Regions from separate parts of the Homo sapiens genome. Here regions 2 and 3 are each linked to region 1. The links come from fine-mapping of genetic effects on gene expression. A gene starts in region 1. Each other region holds a variant in brackets. All regions are shown on one strand. Distances are between the middles of the regions.

Region 1 (2,753 bases):
TTTGTCCAGCTGCAGAAATAGCTCCTTCCCTTGGTGGCCAGCATGGGGATTCAGGGAGCCAGTGGAAGAGGCCTAGCCCCTGGGTGAACAGTAAAGACCTTGTCTCCTCCACCTGCGGGTAAATACAGCTCCTCATCCCCGGCCACAACAGCGCTCAGCCAGTCTCCTTCAGCCGGGTTTGCCTCCGCTGCAGGGTCCTCCACTCCCAGCCTTTGCTGTGCTGTCCCTTGCCAGCTGTGCACTGTGCATTTCCACTGCCCTTCCCTCTGCCTACACGTCCTTTAAGACTTAACTCACAACCATGCAGTGGCTCACACCCATAATCCTAGCACTTGAGGAGGCCAAGGCAGGCGGATCACCTGAGGTAAGGAGTTCAAGACCAGCCTGGCCAACATGGTGAAGCCCCCTCTCTACTAAAAAATACAAAAATTAGCCGGGCGTGGGTGGGTGCCTGTAATCCCAGCTAGTCCGGAGGCTTAGGAGGGAGAATCGCTTGAACCCGGGAGGTGGAAGCTGCAGTGAGCTGAGATCATGCCATGGCACTCCAGCCTGAGCAACAGAGAGAGACTCCGTCTCAAAAAAAAAAAAAAAAAAAAAAAAAAAAAAAAAAAAAAAAAAAAGAGAGAGAGAGAGACTTAACTCAGGTATCATCTCCTCTAGGAAGATTTCCTGAGCCCCCAGGCCCTGCAGGAAGTATTAGGGACCTCTCTGTGCCCTGACAGCCCGAGGACTCTATAGTCAGATGGGAGTAGTCAAAGGAGGGCACAACAACGGGAGGCAGGGGCCAGAGATCTATCTCCCCTCCTTGAGGATGGCACAGGGTCCCGGGTATGGCTGATTCCCTGCCCTCCATGGAGGTGGGCGGGGTGGGGGGAGGGTCTGTAAAGTCTCTGAGATGCGACTTCATTTACCTGCCGAGCAAGCCTCCTAGGTGCTCTTGGAGCAGGAAACACTTCACACAACATCTGATGCTGCTATTATCTATCCCACTTTCAGATCAGGAAACTGAGGCAGAGAAAGGTAAGTAGTGACTGAGGCAGGACAGGAGCCCAGGCTGTCCGGCTCCAGGGTCCCGGTCTTGACGGCCACTCTACCCCACTCTACCAGTCGCCCCAGTATGGCTGTCTTCCTCCTGGGCACCGCGGGGCCTGTACCGGATGGAAGGGAATGAGAATGGGGAGCAAAGGAGTGGGCATGTCATGCCTGTAAACATCAAGGTTTAAAGGCCCAGGCATTCAAGGCCTCAGATCGAGCTTCCCGGTTCCCCGAACTCCCGCAGGGCGCGGCTGGAGGGCCCAGGAGGGAGGAGAGTTCATCAGGCCTGGACGCCCCAAGCAAGGCCACGAGGGGAACCGGTGGAAGAGGGGTTGGCGGCCGGGGACCGGAGTCGCCTCCCCGGGGCAGCCCGCACGTTCCCCGGCTGGCCTTGTCCGGGGTGGCGAGCAGAGGCCTGGCCTGGCCCCCCAGCCGCGTCCCTGCCAGCTCTCGGCGGCCGCGAGGACGGTGCCGGGGAGGGGGCCGGGGAGGGGGCCGGGCCCCGCCCGCGGGCGGGAGGAGACGGGCGGGAGGCGGGAGCGCCCACACCCCGCCCCCGCCCCCGGATCCAGCCCGCGGAGCCCGCGGCCAGGGCGGCGCAGACCGGCCCAGCGACTCTCCCGGGCTGCCAGCCGGGACGCGCGGCCGCCGCCGCTGCAGACGACGAGTCCGCCCTCGTCCCGCGCCCCCGGGGCTCGCGGAGCCAGGTAACAGCCCGGGCGCGCGGGTCCTCGGGGCGGAGGCCGTGGAGGCCGGCGGGTCCCGGCGCCCGCGGGGACTCTGCACCCTACTAGGCTCCCGGGGCCGGAACGGGGACGGGACCCGCCCGGGAGAGGCGCCCCCGGGTGCCCACAGGAAGGCCGGGCGCGGCCGCGGAGCCGCGCGAGGAAACTCCGAGCTTTCGGGCTTCGTGTCCCGTTCCAGGCTGGTGGAGGGGGCAGAGGATCGGACACGGCTGAGCGGCCAAAATGCGCGAGGAGGGGGCGAGCCGAGGGGCAGAGCGGGGGCTGTCTCCGCGCCTTCCTGCGCGGGGGAAGGAAGGGCCGGGGCGGGCAGCGGGCGACGCGGCGGAATGTCTCCCCTCCGCCGAGGCCCACGCGGAGAGCGGGAAGTGGGGGGTGGGGGGCCCGGGGAGATGGACAGGCACCCTGCCCCCCTCCCCGACCGCCGCATTCCAGGCTGGAGCCGCGGATGAGGTCATCCCGTCCGGTTCCCCTCCGGCCAAGACAGCCGGTCGTCCCCTTCCCCCGCGGAGCGACCCTCCGCGTCCTGAGCCCCGTCCCCCCAGGGAATGTTGGATGGCCGAAGTCTTTCCCGGACTTCCAATCCCGGCCGCCCTCCAGATTGTTCTGCCTTTGCCCCAGCAGTGCCAGACCCGCAACATTCGAAGCCCTTTTCCTAGACCGGGAAACTGAGGCTTAGAGAGTAGGGGGGACTGGCCGGGAGGCCGCAGCGGCACTAAACGTGGCGCGGGGACCCGAGACGCGGCCCGCAGCCGCTCCGTCTCGCTCGGTCCCGGGCTGGTTCGGCTCTAACTCGGGGCGGTGGGCACGAAGCGCGTCTCCTTTCCACTTTCCCCGTCGCTCCCTAATGGCCCACGGTGCCCCCCTTGGAATACGGAGGACCGGGTCCCCTAGCGCGACTGCGAACAACTAGCTACCCCGTTCTGGCCTCAGTTTCCCCGTCTCTCCACCTTGAAGCGTCTGGACTTTGAGGAG
Region 2 (2,753 bases), 83 kb before region 1:
GCTTAATCTCAGTGCCTCAGTTGCCTGAGATCTAGAAACAAGACTAATGCCACCTTCTCCCCCAGGTGTTGTGATCCTCTTGATGGAGCACAGAGCTGGCTCAGAGTCAGTCCTCAATACAAGGGAGTGGCTGCTGATGGTGCTGTTAATAATAATAATAGCCCGGAAAGACCTCCAGAAGCCAGGCCTCGCCACTTCTAGAACACCTGTGTCCCACCCCCACCCACACTGCGGCCTCCACTACCCCTGAGATCCCCTCATAATATTAGGAGTAATATCATCTCCCTTAGATGATATTATGAATAATATCACAGGATGTACACCCACTGTGCTATTAGGAGTAATATCATCTCCCTTAGATGGCCCAGTGTATAGTGGACTGTCCCAGCTCAAATACCACCTCTTCCTGGAAGCCTTCCCTTCTTCCCTCACCCAGAAGGCCCTTCTCCCTCCTCTGAAGACCCTTAGATTTGGCCTTCACCTCCCCTACGGCATTGACCAGTCAGAAAAGGGCGGTAAATAGCACCTACCAGGGCCAGCCCAGACATTTTCTCATTTAACCCTTACTACACCATTGGCCACTGCATTATCAGGTCCATGTGCCGACGGGGGGACTGGGGCTCTTGGAGATGACATGACTTGCCTGTGAGTGGCACGTCATGCGCTCAGCCGTGCAGCCCCTGAGGGCAGGTGGCAGGTGGCTTGTTCACCACCAACTGCCGCTCTGTGACACACGCAAATGAGGAGCAGCTTCTCCTGAGCTCACTCTCAAAGCCCTTCCTGCTGCAAAGGCCCCTCCTGTACCCCAGCTGCCACCCCCTCCCCGCCTTCCTGCCCACCCCTGGGTCTCTGCTTACCTGGCCCACGGAGCCATCTTCAAAGCCAGTTTGCGATTGATGCAGAAGCCAGCACCCCCAGTGGCAAACCAGAACTGTACCAGCCTCTGAGAGAGAGGAAGGCCAAGGGGCAGAGTGAGCCTGGTGGCAGTTGTGGGGAAAAGGGACAGCCAGGCCACCCTTCACCCCCAACCAGCATGGCTCAAAAGCCCTTTATTTTGAATCTCACTAGAGTCTTGCTACAACCTGGCATTATTGCACCCATTCTATAGATAAGAAAACAGAGGCCCGAAGTCACATAGTTAATTATGAGTGGTGAGGTCACTGATCAGACTCAAGTCCAGCTGAATTCCAGTTAAAGGGGACAGGTGTTGTTTTACCCACCCAGCCACCATGCCCCTTTCCCCTGAGAAAGGTCTCTACCTCACTCCATGTGGCTTGGGAGGGGCTGCCGAACATGGCACCTGCTCTCCTGGGCCACAGAGGTGGGCCTAGGTTGACGGGGCCTGAGTGTGCATAGGAAAGATGTGGCTGGGAAACAAAGGTCAGGCTGTGTCCAATACAAATCACTAACACTTTTTTTTTTTTAAGAGACAGAGTCTTGCTCTGTTGCCCAGGCTCAAGTGCAGTGGCACCATCTCTGCTCACTGCAACCTCCGCCTCCCAGGTTCAAGCGATTCTCCAGCCTCAGCTTCCCAAATAGCTGGAACTACAGAC[G/A]TGCGCCACCACGCCCAACTAATTTTTGTATTTTTTAGTAGAGACAGGGTTTAACTATTTGTTGGCCAGGCTGGTCTCAAACTCCTGACCTCAGGTGATTCACCTGCCTCGGCCTCCCAAAGTGCTGGGATTACAGATATGAGCCACCGCGCCCGGCCTCAGATCACTAACACTTTCTAGTGTTGACTTCGTGCCAGGTCTCATTCCAAGGACTTGGAGAGATGACCTCATTTCATTCTTTCTTCTGTGTTCACGACCACTCTTTGAGTAGGGGCTGTTATCACCCATTTCACAGATTAGGAAACTGAGGCACAGAGAGGTGAGGTGACCTCAGTCAAGGTCACAAAGCCAGGAGGTGGCAGGGCTGCCGTGTAAACCCAGGGAGTCAGGCTCCAGCGTGCAGTTCTCCACCCCAGAGGCAAACTGCTTAGGCAGAGGTGAGTCGCCAGCAGTGAAGTGGTGTGAGAGCCTGGGGGACCCCCTGGCTCCCCTGGAATCACTCATACACAGAGCCCTAGGGCCCAGAAGAATTTAATTAAGGCTCAGAGGCTGATTAGCTACTGATAATTAAGGCTCTGTGTTTTCTGCTCTTGGTTTTCCTAATGAAGCAGATGGGGACCTGGGAAGGGAGGTTGAGCCCCGCTGTGTGCCCAGCTCCTGCACCAGGCACTGCCTCTAGAGAGGGACCTCCCGATCTGCCTTCTTCCTGGAGCCAAGGGAGCCCTAGGGCCAGGACCACTCTAACACCTGATGCCCAGGGGGTCCTGGGGACAGGGAGAGAACCATGCAATATTTGGGACATACTTATACTAAAAATTTCCTCATTATTTATGAGAAAGTCAAGTTTAACTGGATGTAGTGGTTTTTCATTTATTTGTTTAATGAATCTGGCAACCCAAATCAGTGTCCATCCAGGTCAGGAACTGAGGCGGGTACAGAGCCCCCTGTTTTGCCAGGTGTCGACTCTTCAGTCACAGGCTAGTGGAGGTGTCTGGAGGGAGAGGGTGCCCCAGGAGGGGAAGGTGGGGAAGGGTTCTGGGGCTCAGGTGGCAGCAATCACCCAGCCCCACAGTATTCAGCAATTTTTTTTTTTTTTTTTGACGGAGGGACGGAGTCTCGCTCTGCCGCCCAGGCTGGAGTGCAGTGGCACAATCTCAGCTCACTGCAACCTCCGCCTCCTGGGTTCAAGCGATTCTCCTC
Region 3 (2,753 bases), 650 kb after region 1:
GAAGAGCAGGTTCAAAACCTTCCTAGCACCTGAGGGTATTTACAATCACAGCCAGCTTCCGCTATTATCAAGGATAGGGAATGGCTGATGGTTCCATCTCTCAGGCCTGGTCTGGAGGCAGTGTTGAGGATTCTAGGCTGTGTCCAAGCTCAGGAGAAAACAGTTCTGTGCTGAGAAAGACTCAGGGGCTGTGGCCTGCCTCACTGGGAATTGGTGCTGTGTGTGGTTAGTGATGTCTCTGTTGCTTGTGGATAGTGGGATGATGGTGAGATGAGGTGATCTTTCTTGCCTATGCCTCCTTTTTTTTTTTTTTTTTTTTTGATGGAGTCTCGCTCTGTTGCCCAGGCTGGAGTCCAGTGGCTTGTTCTCAGCTCACTGAAACCTCCACCTCCCGGGTTCATGCAATTCTTCTGCCTCAGCCTCCCAAGTAGCTGGGACTATAGGTGTGCGCCACCACACCTGGCTAATTTTTGCATTTTTTTTTTTCTTTAGTAGAGACAGGATTTCACCATGTTGGCCAGGCCGTTCTTGAACTCCTGGCCTCAGATGATCTGCCCACCTTGGCCTCCCAAAGTGCTGGGATTACAGGCGTGAGCCACCACGCCTGGCCTTGCCTAAGCCTTTATATTTTACACACCAAGATTATTGTGATTATTCCCACTTAGCAAGGAATCCAGGACTCAGGAAAAATGACTTGTGCATGAGGCCAGACTGTGCCTCTGAGGTTCTGTATCAGCCGCAACACCCAAAGGGCAGTTGATTAACTTGCGTGGGGAGAGGCTTCCCTTCTCCCATTGGGTCTTTCTGTGTAGCTCAGGTGGCCAAGCATCACTGCACGTGCCAGCTCCCCAAACGGCTGGTAAGGGGGCCTGGATACTTAACTGTAACTTGCAAATCGTATCCCTAGCGGGCCCAACACAAATCCTGGAGAATCAGAGCTGGGGTGGCCTTGGAAACTGGCAAGTCCAGCTTCATCTTCACAGGGCTAGGGAAACAGGGCCCAGGGAGGTCGCCCTGCCAGGGCCACACAGGGAGGAGGTGTGTGGCTCCATGTGGCCTCAGGCCTGAATTCTATTATTATTATTATTATTATTTTTGAGATGGAGTCTTGCTCTGTCACCCAGGCTGGAGTGCAGTCGCGTAATCTCGGCTCACTGCAACCTCTGCCTCCCAGGTTCTAAGCGATTCTCCTGCCTCAGCCTCCTGAGTAGTTGGGACTACAGGTGTGTGCCACCAGGCCCAGCTAATTTTTTGTATTTTTAGTACAGACAGGGTTTCACTGTGTTAGCCATGATGGTCTCAGTCTCCTGACCTCATGATCCGCCCACCTCGGCCTCCCAAAGTGCTGGGATTACAGGCATGAGCCACCTTGCTTGGCCATCTTTTTTTTTTTTTTTTTTTTTTTTTTTTTTTTTTTGAGACAGAGTCTCGCTCTGTCACCCAGGCTGGAGTGCAGTGGCGCGATCTCAGCTCACTGCAAGCTCCATCTCCGGGTTCACGCCATTCTCCTGCCTCAGCCTCCCCAGTAGCTGGGACTACAGGCGCCCACCACCACACCCGGCTAATTTTTTTTTTAAGAGGC[G/A]GGGTCTTGCTTTGTCACCCAGGGAGTGCAGTGGCGGGATCACAGCTCACTGCCGCCTTGAATTCCTGGGCTCAATGGTTCCTCCTGCCTCAGCCTCCTGAGTAGCTGGGGCTATAGGTGTGCACCACTGCACCCGGCTAATCTTTTTATTTTTTGGAGATGGAGTCTAGCCATCTTGCCCAGGTTGGTCTTGAACTCTCAGGCCTGAATTCTACCCCATGCTGGCTGTATGAGCCTGGACTACTCTATTGTCCTCTCTGGGCATTACCTCAGGGTTGGGCGAACCAGGGAGGTGACGGTGTGAAGGGACCAGGTTTCAGTCCTGGGCCTTTGCAGCTATTCATTCACACCTATTGTGTGACTTCAGGCAAGTGCTGCCCCTCTCTGGGTCTCTACCTCCCCTTGGGTAAAGGGAGGAGGCAGGACCTGATGGCCTCTAAGGGCCTTTCCTGCAGTTCCCTGTGTGACCCCAGCCAGCTGGGAGATGCTAAATCAGAGCGAGACCCCAGTGCTGGCTACAGGCCTGACCCCTCCTGGACAGACAGCAATTCTAACCTCCCAGCTGCTCACTGACCTCTACAGTGTATACCACTTGATTCCACCAAAACCCTGCGAGGCAGGTATTGTTCCGATCCTTTAGATGGGAAAGTGGAGACCCAGAGAGATGGAGTGGCTCACCCCAGGTCACACAGCCTGAGAAAACAGAGATGCGACTTAAACCCAAGCTTGACTCCCAATCCAGTGCTCCTTTCCCTGTTTCCCACACCCCACCTTTGGGCCCAAAGTCACGTGGATGGGATCCCCTCTGCTCTCTTCCCATTCGCCTAGCATCTGTACTGTCTCTGCCAACAGGCCCAAGGAAGCAGCTGGAGAGGAGGAAGAATTAGAGACAGGGCCAGGAGGTACTGAACTACGTTTCGGCTTGGAACCCGGCTTGGTGACAAGCTGGGTGATGGCGTCAGAGACTCTGACCATCCACCCTTCCCCAGTGCCTGCTCCCTGCCAGGTCTTGAGATGGGTGGCCTCAAGCACCCAGAGCTGACTCAGCCTCTCCCTGTCTGGTGGAGAGACAGCAAGGAAATACAACCCATTACACACAGGGGTGGGGGTCCCTAACAAGTCCTAGGGATCAGGGAGGGCTTCCTGGAGGAGGAGATGTCTGCACCCAGGG

Direction of the effects. Alleles are on the strand shown, and positions count from the first base shown. SD is a standard deviation of normalised expression in the study named. Not every link is listed here.
As copies of A replace G in region 3, the expression in cerebellum of the gene that starts at base 1,634 in region 1 goes down (large effect, 0.90 SD a copy in GTEx).

What was found. PIP is the estimated chance that this variant, and not a neighbour inherited with it, causes the effect.
Region 2: its variant is the best candidate, but not a certain one, in a credible set for the expression of CDC42EP1 in whole blood (INTERVAL, PIP 0.52).
Region 3: its variant is the best candidate, but not a certain one, in a credible set for the expression of CDC42EP1 in cerebellum (GTEx, PIP 0.76).

What each region holds. Positions count from the first base shown.
Region 1 is chr22:37,558,847-37,561,599 of GRCh38, forward strand. It overlaps CDC42EP1 (CDC42 effector protein 1), which reads left to right and starts at 1,634. Exons shown (of 3, transcript NM_152243.3): 1 at 1,634-1,742. RefSeq lists an enhancer at 2,270-2,753.
Region 2 is chr22:37,476,039-37,478,791 of GRCh38, forward strand. MFNG (MFNG O-fucosylpeptide 3-beta-N-acetylglucosaminyltransferase) reads right to left here. Exons shown (of 8, transcript NM_002405.4): 5 at 858-943. Among named protein-coding and RNA genes, the nearest start is that of MFNG, 9.0 kb to the right of the region's middle. The variant G/A (reference allele first, on the strand shown) is at 1,554.
Region 3 is chr22:38,206,042-38,208,794 of GRCh38, forward strand. The region is part of intron 1 of MAFF (MAF bZIP transcription factor F); the gene reads left to right. Among named protein-coding and RNA genes, the nearest start is that of MAFF, 5.4 kb to the left of the region's middle. RefSeq lists an enhancer at 1,459-1,603 and a cis regulatory region at 1,524-1,541. The variant G/A (reference allele first, on the strand shown) is at 1,583.